2 separate regions of the Homo sapiens genome follow, and region 2 is linked to region 1. Evidence: fine-mapped expression QTL. A gene starts in region 1. The other region holds a variant in brackets. All regions are shown on one strand. Distances are from middle to middle.

The links. PIP is the estimated chance that this variant, and not a neighbour inherited with it, causes the effect.
Region 2: its variant is the best candidate, but not a certain one, in a credible set for the expression of PCDHGA1 in cerebellar hemisphere (GTEx, PIP 0.68).

The regions. Positions count from the first base shown.
Region 1 is chr5:141,328,609-141,332,876 of GRCh38, reverse strand. It overlaps PCDHGA1 (protocadherin gamma subfamily A, 1), which reads right to left and starts at 2,363. Exons shown (of 4, transcript NM_018912.3): 1 at 1-2,363. The coding sequence starts at 2,192. It also overlaps PCDHG@.
Region 2 is chr5:141,303,087-141,307,354 of GRCh38, reverse strand. SLC25A2 (solute carrier family 25 member 2) reads left to right here and starts at 3,306. Exons shown (of 1, transcript NM_031947.4): 1 at 3,306-4,268. The coding sequence starts at 3,490. The variant G/A (reference allele first, on the strand shown) is at 1,658.

The DNA.
Region 1 (4,268 bases):
CCGCCTCCCGAAGCCTGTAGCAGACGTGACTTGTGCCAGCGCCGCAGCCTGTGCGCCAGCAGCACGATGACGAAGGCCAGGAAGACGCAGGAGACCGCGGCCGCCGCCACCACCAGGTACAGAGTGAGGTCCGAATCGTTGGGTTTGGCGGAGGGCTCGAGGCTGCCCAGGTCGGCCAGGATGTCGGAGATCCTGTCGGCCACGGCCACGGTGAGCGTGACAGTGGCGGAGAGCGGGGGCTGGCCGTGGTCCTGGACGGCCACCACGAGACTCTGCTTGAGCGCGTCTCTGTCCAGCAGGGCTCGCGCCGTGCGCACCTCGCCCGTGTGCAGACCCACCGAGAAGAGTCCCGGCTCGCTGGCCTTGAGCAGGCGGTAGGACAGCCAGGCGTTCTGGCCCGAGTCTCTGTCCACCGCCACCACCTTGGTCACCAGGTAGCCGGGCTCTGCGGAGAGGGGCGCCAGCTCCACGCCGGTAGAACCATCTGTGGGGAGGGCGGGGTACAGGATCTCGGGCGCGTTGTCGTTCTGGTCCAGCAGGAATAGGCTGAGAGACACGTTGCTGCTGAGGGGCGGATCCCCACTGTCCCGCGCCATCACTTTCAGTTGCATGTCCCGGAACTGCTCATAGTCGAAGGATCGCAGCGCATACAGGACCCCAGTGTCGGAGTTGATGGAGAGGTAGGCAGATAGGGGTGCCCCCTGGATAGTGTCCTCTATTAGGGAGTAAGTGATTTGTGCATTCTCATTGCTGTCCAAGTCGTGGGCCCTCACAGAGAAGATGGAGGCTCCTCTGGGGTTGTTTTCGGGAATGTAGGCAGAGTAGGAGTCCTGATGGAAGACTGGGGAGTTGTCATTGATATCTGTCACTAGTAGTGAAATGTGAGTTTCAGTAGATAGAGCTGGAGTTCCTTGGTCTATTGCTGTTATTGTGATGTTGTACCCAGAGATAAGTTCTCTGTCCAGTGTTCTTTCAGTCACTAAACGGTAATAATTATCAACTAACTTTTCCAATTTAAAGGGTAAATTTCCAGGAATGAAACATGTGGTGTAGCCATTGTCTCCTGAGTCCTGGTCATGCACACTGATAAGAGCAATTATGGTCCCAGGAGGAAAGTTTTCTGGAACTGCAGTGGTGACAGAGGTGATGGTCACTTCTGGGGCATTATCATTTACATCCAAAACTTTGATCAGTACCTTAACTTTAGCCATGAGCCCCGCACCATCCTGGGCTTGAACTTCCATTGAATACATTTTGTATTCTTCGAAATCTAGTGGTTCTTTATTTGATATTTCTCCTGTGTAAGAATCTAAACGAAATATTTGGGCCACTCTGTGGTCTACATTGTGAAAGGAGTACGTTACTTCCCCATTGGCTCCCTCATCAGGGTCAGTGGCATTTACCATGAGCAGCTGAGTACCCAGCGGCACGTTTTCGGGGACATTTATATGGTATTGTGCCTGAGTAAATGCTGGAGGATTGTCATTTGCATCCACCACCTGAATGTAAATTCTGAGGGTCCCTGAACGGACTGGTTCACCCCCATCAGAAGCTGTGAGGATGAGGTGGTGGACAGCTTCTTCTTCTCTGTCTAAGGGACTCTGCAGCACCATCTCTGGATGTTGAGGCCCATCGGCTCCCTGTTGCACATCCAGGGAGAAATGAGGGTTAGAGCTGAGTTGGTAGCTCTGGAGTGAGTTCATACCCACATCAAGGTCTTGCCCAAAAGGCAATGAGACTCTGGTACCTGGAGTCGTTATTTCATTCATTTTAAACTCCAGTTCCTCTAACTGGAATTGGGGAGTGTTGTCATTAATATCAATTATTTCTACTTCAACAGGAAAAAGCTTCATTTTATCCTCAACAAGGATATTAAAACTCACGAGACACGGCATGCTCTGAGCGCAGAGCTCCTCCCGGTCTATCCTGCGCGCGGTGATCAAGCTGCCACTTCTAGGATTCAGAGCGAAAAGCGGCATCCTACCTCTGGAGACGATGCGGACTCCGCCATCTGCCAGCTCCTGGGGTTGCAGCCCTAGGTCCTTGGCGATGTTGCCTACGAAGGAACCTTTGTCTGTCTCTTCCGGCACTGAGTAGTGAATATTCCCAGCCCCAGCTTCCAACAGCAGCTCCAGAGAAAGACACAGAAGCATCAGCCTGCTGCAGCCAGTCAGCTTTTTCTGAATCTTCATGGCTCTCTCACTTCGTAGTTTTCTTCCAGTCCAGTACCAAGGGTATCGTTTCTGCTTTTCTGAGCTGAAATTAACCCAATTTTCAGGAGAATTCTGACTGGAGAGTCATCCAGAAGTAGGATTTAGGCAGTCTTGGACAGTCAGTTTTCAATCTGGCGGTTATGGAGGTTCTAAGAGGCACGAGAGCTTTTTTCTTTTTCTTTTTTTTTTTTTTCCTCCTCCTGACCTGTGTGTACTGCCTGTATCTACCAGATTAGTGAACAGCGGCGCCCACAGTCCTAACCAGTTACTGCATTCCTAGCAAATACTGAAAACCTTCTCATTAACTTGTTATTTTCTTAAGTTTTAGTCTATTGTCAAGGAAATAATTCTACAATATATGTATGAAAAAGAGAAACTATATGTTCACTTCTTTAAATGTGCCTAAATGTCACCAAATTGAAATATACAGGAGAATCCAAGTATTCCCATGTTATCTGCTTTCCAAGTTTGCTATTCAGGGAATTATAGTAAAAACCTAACATTACAATGAGGACAAAATCATCTCTCCACTTTTTCTGTAGTAAAGTTTGACCACTTGGTAATTTCCCAGGCCACATAGAGCAGCTCCCCTTTGACTGGAGGGTGAAAAGTATTAGAGGGAAAAATAATCTTTTAGAATATAAGCTAGACTTTAAAAAAATCATACCATCCCATTTCCTTCCCATTATGATTTGAATATTTATCAGAAACCTTGGGATTTTGAAGAGCATGGTTTAACCCTATCCTTATTTTTCCTCTTTTTTTTTTTTGAAGTGTCTTTGCATTATGTGGGTTTTTAAAAAATTCTTAAGATTCACCAAAGGCAATATATTTTGAAAAAAATAAAACTGGGCTCTTGGAATTTCATTGAAAAGTCACATGAATATATAATTTAGATTTCAAATTTCAGAGACAAAGTCTATGATATTATTCTTCACAGCTGAAAAGAAAAATGGTCTCATCTTTATTTTTAGATAGGCTCTTATAATATGTATTCCTCTATAATCGCACTTAATATTTTCTCCAAGAGAAGTTGGTTTTCTCTTAACAGTATTTTTTAACCAGTTGAGGATGTGGCCTTCTTTTTTTTTTAATCACTGCACTATTAGCAAAGGGTTACTAATTAAAATGTCTCAGGCTTAGAGTGACTTACTTATCTTTACCCCAAAGTTAGAGAAGCATGCTATCTGTACTCCAGAGTCTGATAATTTCAGGAACAAATTCGGCCAGCCAACCCATGGACACCATGACTGAGAAAAGTTAAAAATGAGGAAAGAAAGAAAACAATGAAAGGTCTCAATAATAGTTTTTGGAAAGAGAACTTTAGTTCTTAACCAAATCTACAGTTTCTCAGCTTCTCAAAGACAAGTACATGGAGCCAAAGAGTAGAAATTTAAAGGTGCAATAAATCATCTTCAATATTGCAAGGAAGTAACTCTTTAACAGAGAATGTAACTTTTCAGAATACACATTAATAGGCATAAACTTTTCCCCAAAGAAATTGTGAGCTAATGAGGTAAATTAAAATATACATAAGAACTAGTAAGTAAACCTGTAGAGCTCCCTACTTTCAGCAACCAAAAACACGCAGGAGTGATTTATAAAAGGATGGTAAGTATAAAATAAAAATGTTAAAATATCACACAAATACATTTGAATCAAATGCAACATTTAAAGCTTCATTGCTGCCCACACACAGTGGCTCACGCCTGCAATCCCAGCACTTTGGGAGGCCAAGGTGGGCAGATTACTTGAGGCCAGGAGTTTGAGACCAGCTTGGTCAATATAGTGAACCCCGTTTCTACAAAAACAAAAATAAAACAAAGCTTCATTGCTGGCACTGCAGAGAATACCTGGTTCAAAGCTGTTTCTTGAGTTAAAGAAATTAAGATTTTAAAAATATCTAAAACCACACATACGTTGTAGGAACAGGGCAAATTTCCTTTCTTTAAGTTGGAGACAACTCCATATCCGGGCTTGGACCAGAGATCCAGCTGAAAACAGCCCCAGGCAATGGAGCTATAGGGGGCATTGCAGGTTCAGAGAGATGGCCAG
Region 2 (4,268 bases), 26 kb after region 1:
GTAAGCCTGGAGAGAATTCATTCCAATGCTGGGATTATAAATATCTGGGAGGAAGAAGTGTGTCCTGACAGTGGTATCCTCACTAATGTCCAAAAAACATCTTGCTTTGAAAGCTAGACATGTCATTTGTATCCCGAACTTCTACTTCTTTTTAAATTGAATTTCATTTTAGATTCAAGGAGTACATGTGCAGGTGTGTTACATGGGTATGTTGTGTAACGCTGAGGTTTGGGCTTCTAGTGAACCCGTCACCCACATAGTGAATGTAGTACCCAACAGGTAGGTTTTCAACCCTCAATCCCTCCCACCCTCCCCACTTTTGGATTCCCCAGTGTCTGTTATTCCCATCTTTATGTCTTTGTGTACCCATTGTTTAGCTCCCACTTATATAAGTGAGAACATGCAGTATTTGATTTTCTGGTTCTAAGATATTTCACCTAGAATAACAGCCCCCAGCTCCATCCATGTTGTGAGGGACATAATTTCATTCTTTTTTATGGCTGCATAGTATTCCGTGGTATACATATACCACATTTTCTTTATCCAATCAACTATTGATGAACACTTACATTGATTCTGTGACTTTCCTGTTGTGAATAGTGCTTCCATAAACATATGAGTGTAGATGTTTTCTGGTTTTTTTTTTGGAGACAGGGTCTTGTTTTGCCACCCAGGCTGGATCATAACTCACTGCAGCCTCCAACTCAGCTCAGTCAATCCTCCCATCTCCGCCTCCTGTGTAGCTGCCACTACAGGGGCATGCCATCATGCATGGCTACTTTTTGTATTTTTTTGTAGAGATGGCATTTTGCCATGTTGTCCAGGCTGGTCTGGAGCTCCTGGGCTCAAGCGATCTACCTGGCTTGGGCTCCCAAAATTCTGGGATTACAGGTGTAAGTCACTGTCCCCAGCACAGGTGTCTTTTTGATAAAATGATTTCTTTTCCTTTGGGTAGATACCTAATAGTGGGATTGCTGGGTTGAATGGGTGTTCTATTTTTAGTTCTTTGAGAAATCTCCATACTGCTTTCCATAGGGGTTGAACTATTTTACATTCCCACCAACAGTGTACAAACGACAAATTTCTACTTCTGCATGAGGCTGTGTGGGTCCTCAAAGAGAATCTCAAAACTTAGAAAGCATAGTGCTGAGCCACCCAGCTCTTTTCTATCAAGTTTCTTAGCAATGCAGTATATAAATACTATCCATTTTCCAAGTTGATTTTATAGTGCCGTGTTCTATCTTCAGAAATGATAAGGACTCCACGTTCCACCAGTTCCCAGGGCTGCAACCCCAGATCCTTGGGGATGTTGCCATGTGATAGCATTTCTCCAGCTCTGCAGGAAAGCAGTAGCACATCTCCAGGGCTAAGGATTCCCACAGTGCCCTACTCCCCTCCTTGCCCCCCAGGAAAGTGAGGAGCGTGGGCAGATCGCTGAGGGTTTTCTGATCAAAAGCAGTCACTGTCTCTCATGTAGCAACCCTCAGATCGTTTCGTTACCGGACAGGGGTCCCGATCCAGACCCAAGAGATTGTTCTTGGATCTCATGCAAGAAATAATTTGGGGCAAGTTCATAGAGTCAAGTGAAAGCAAGTTTATTAGAGAAGTAAAGAAGCAAAAGAATGGCTACTCCATAGGCACAGCAGTGGCCTGGGCG[G/A]CTTGACTAAGGATACTTACAGTTTTTTATTGAATGTAAGCTAAACAAGGGGTGGATTATTCATGAGGTTTCTGGGAAAGGGGTCCAAAGTTACCGGAACTGAGGATTCCTCCCCCTTTTTAGACCACATAGGGTCACTTCTTATTGTTGCCATGGCATCTGTAAGTGGACACGGCGCTGGTGGGCGTGTCTTTTAGCATGCTAATGCATTATAATTGGCGTATAATGAGCAGTAAGGACGACCAGAGGTCACTTATTATGCCATCTTGATTCTGGTGGGATTTGGCTGGCTTCTTTACTGAAACCTGTTTTATCAGCAAGGTCTTTGTGACCCGTATCTTGTGCCGGCCTCCTATCTCATCCTGTGACTTAGAATGCCTGTCTTCCTGGGAATGCAGTCCAGTAGGTCTCGGCCTTATTTTACTCAGTCCCTAGTCAAGATGGAGTTGCTGTGGTTCCAGCGCCTCTGACAGTTTGTCTTCTCTACTTTATTTTTTGTAGGGGGTAAGGGGTGTCTCATTTTGCTGCCCAAGCTAGCCTTGAACTCCTAGGCTCAAATGAGCCTCCCTCCGCAGCCTCTCCAAGTGTTGGGATTACAGGCATGAGCCACCACACCTGGCCTGTCTTATCTACTTTAAAGCAGTTTTCTTGTAGATTGACCCTCTGAATTCAGGGTCTATTCAAGTGAGGGCATCTTCTTTTCGGGTTGTTTGTTTTTGTTTTTTGCATGGTAAGAAGCGTGGGATAGGCCGGGTGTGGTGGTTCATGCTTGTAAGCCCCAACACTTTGGGAGGCCAGTGGGTGGATTGCTTGAGTTCAGGAGTTCGAGACTAGCCTGGGCAACATGGCGAAACCCCGTCTGTACAATACAAAATTTAGCCAGATGTGGTGGCTTGCGCCTGTAGTCCCTCTAGTCTCAGCTACTCAGGAGGCTGAGGTGAGAGGATCGCCTGAGGCCAGGAGATTGGGGCTGCAGTGAGCCAGGATCGCGCCACTGAACTCCAGCTTAGGCGGCCGAGTGAGACCCTAAGTCAAAAAAAAAAAAAAGAGAGAAAAGAAAAGAAGCAGGGCTGACTGATTAGGACAGCATTTCTTTTGCCGCCAGCTGAACTGCGGCGTCTAGAGTTCCCGGCCATAATTGCAAGAATTTATCGAAAAGCTTTACATGTTTTCTTGGTTTTGGTTTTGTTTTGAGACAGAGCCTCACCCTTTCGCCCACCCTGGAGTGCAGTGTGCGATCATAGCTCACTGCAGCATCGACCTCCCGGGTTCAAGCGATCCTCGCTTCATTCTCCTGAATTGCTGGGACCACAGGCGCGCGCCATCGCGCCCGGGTATTTTTTCGTTTTTGTAGAAATGGAGTCTTGCCATATTGCCCAGGCTGGTCTCGATCTCCTGGGCTCAAGCGATCCTCCCGCCTCGGCCTCCCAAAGTGCTGGGATACAGGAGTGAGCCACCGCGCCCAGTCGCAGTACACTAAAAGTATTTATTCGGTCCGCGTCCCCCGCCTGCGGGTGCAGGGATGGCGGCTCCAGGCTGGAGGCGGCTGGGGGCCCGGCCAGTGCGCCAGGAGCCGCAGGAACGCTAGTGAGCCGCGCGCTGGGCCGGCAGCTGGGGGTTATTTTAGTGCGCGGGGAGGGGGCGGCCCGCGGCGGAGCGTAGGGTTGAGCGGCTTCCCCCGCACTGGGGTGAGAGCCCAGAACAGGCGGTAGAGCCACCCCACCACCCCCAACTCCATTCCCCGCGCTCGCTGCGGCTGGACGTGAAAAGCCGGTCTCACGCTCTGGGGAGTTAGTCGCCTTCCACTGGGACCCTCAGACGAGTGAGCGAACATGAAGTCCGGTCCTGGCATCCAAGCCGCCATCGACCTCACAGCGGGGGCCGCAGGGGGGACAGCGTGTGTACTGACTGGGCAGCCCTTCGACACAATAAAAGTGAAGATGCAGACGTTCCCTGACCTGTACAAGGGCCTCACCGACTGCTTCCTGAAGACATACGCTCAAGTGGGTCTCCGGGGCTTCTACAAGGGCACCGGCCCGGCACTTATGGCCTACGTCGCCGAAAACTCGGTCCTCTTCATGTGCTACGGGTTCTGCCAGCAGTTTGTCAGGAAAGTGGCTGGAATGGACAAGCAGGCAAAGCTGAGTGATCTCCAGACTGCAGCCGCGGGGTCCTTCGCCTCTGCATTTGCTGCACTGGCTCTCTGCCCCACTGAGCTTGTGAAGTGCCGGCTACAGACCATGTATGAAATGGAGATGTCAGGGAAGATAGCAAAAAGCCATAATACAATTTGGTCTGTCGTGAAGGGTATCCTTAAAAAGGATGGCCCCTTGGGCTTCTACCATGGACTCTCGAGTACTCTACTTCAAGAAGTACCGGGTTATTTCTTTTTCTTTGGTGGCTATGAACTGAGCCGATCGTTTTTTGCGTCAGGGAGATCAAAAGATGAACTAGGCCCTGTCCATTTGATGTTAAGTGGTGGAGTTGCTGGAATTTGCCTGTGGCTTGTCGTGTTCCCAGTGGATTGTATTAAATCCAGAATTCAAGTTCTTTCCATGTATGGGAAACAGGCAGGATTTATTGGTACCCTCTTAAGTGTTGTGAGAAATGA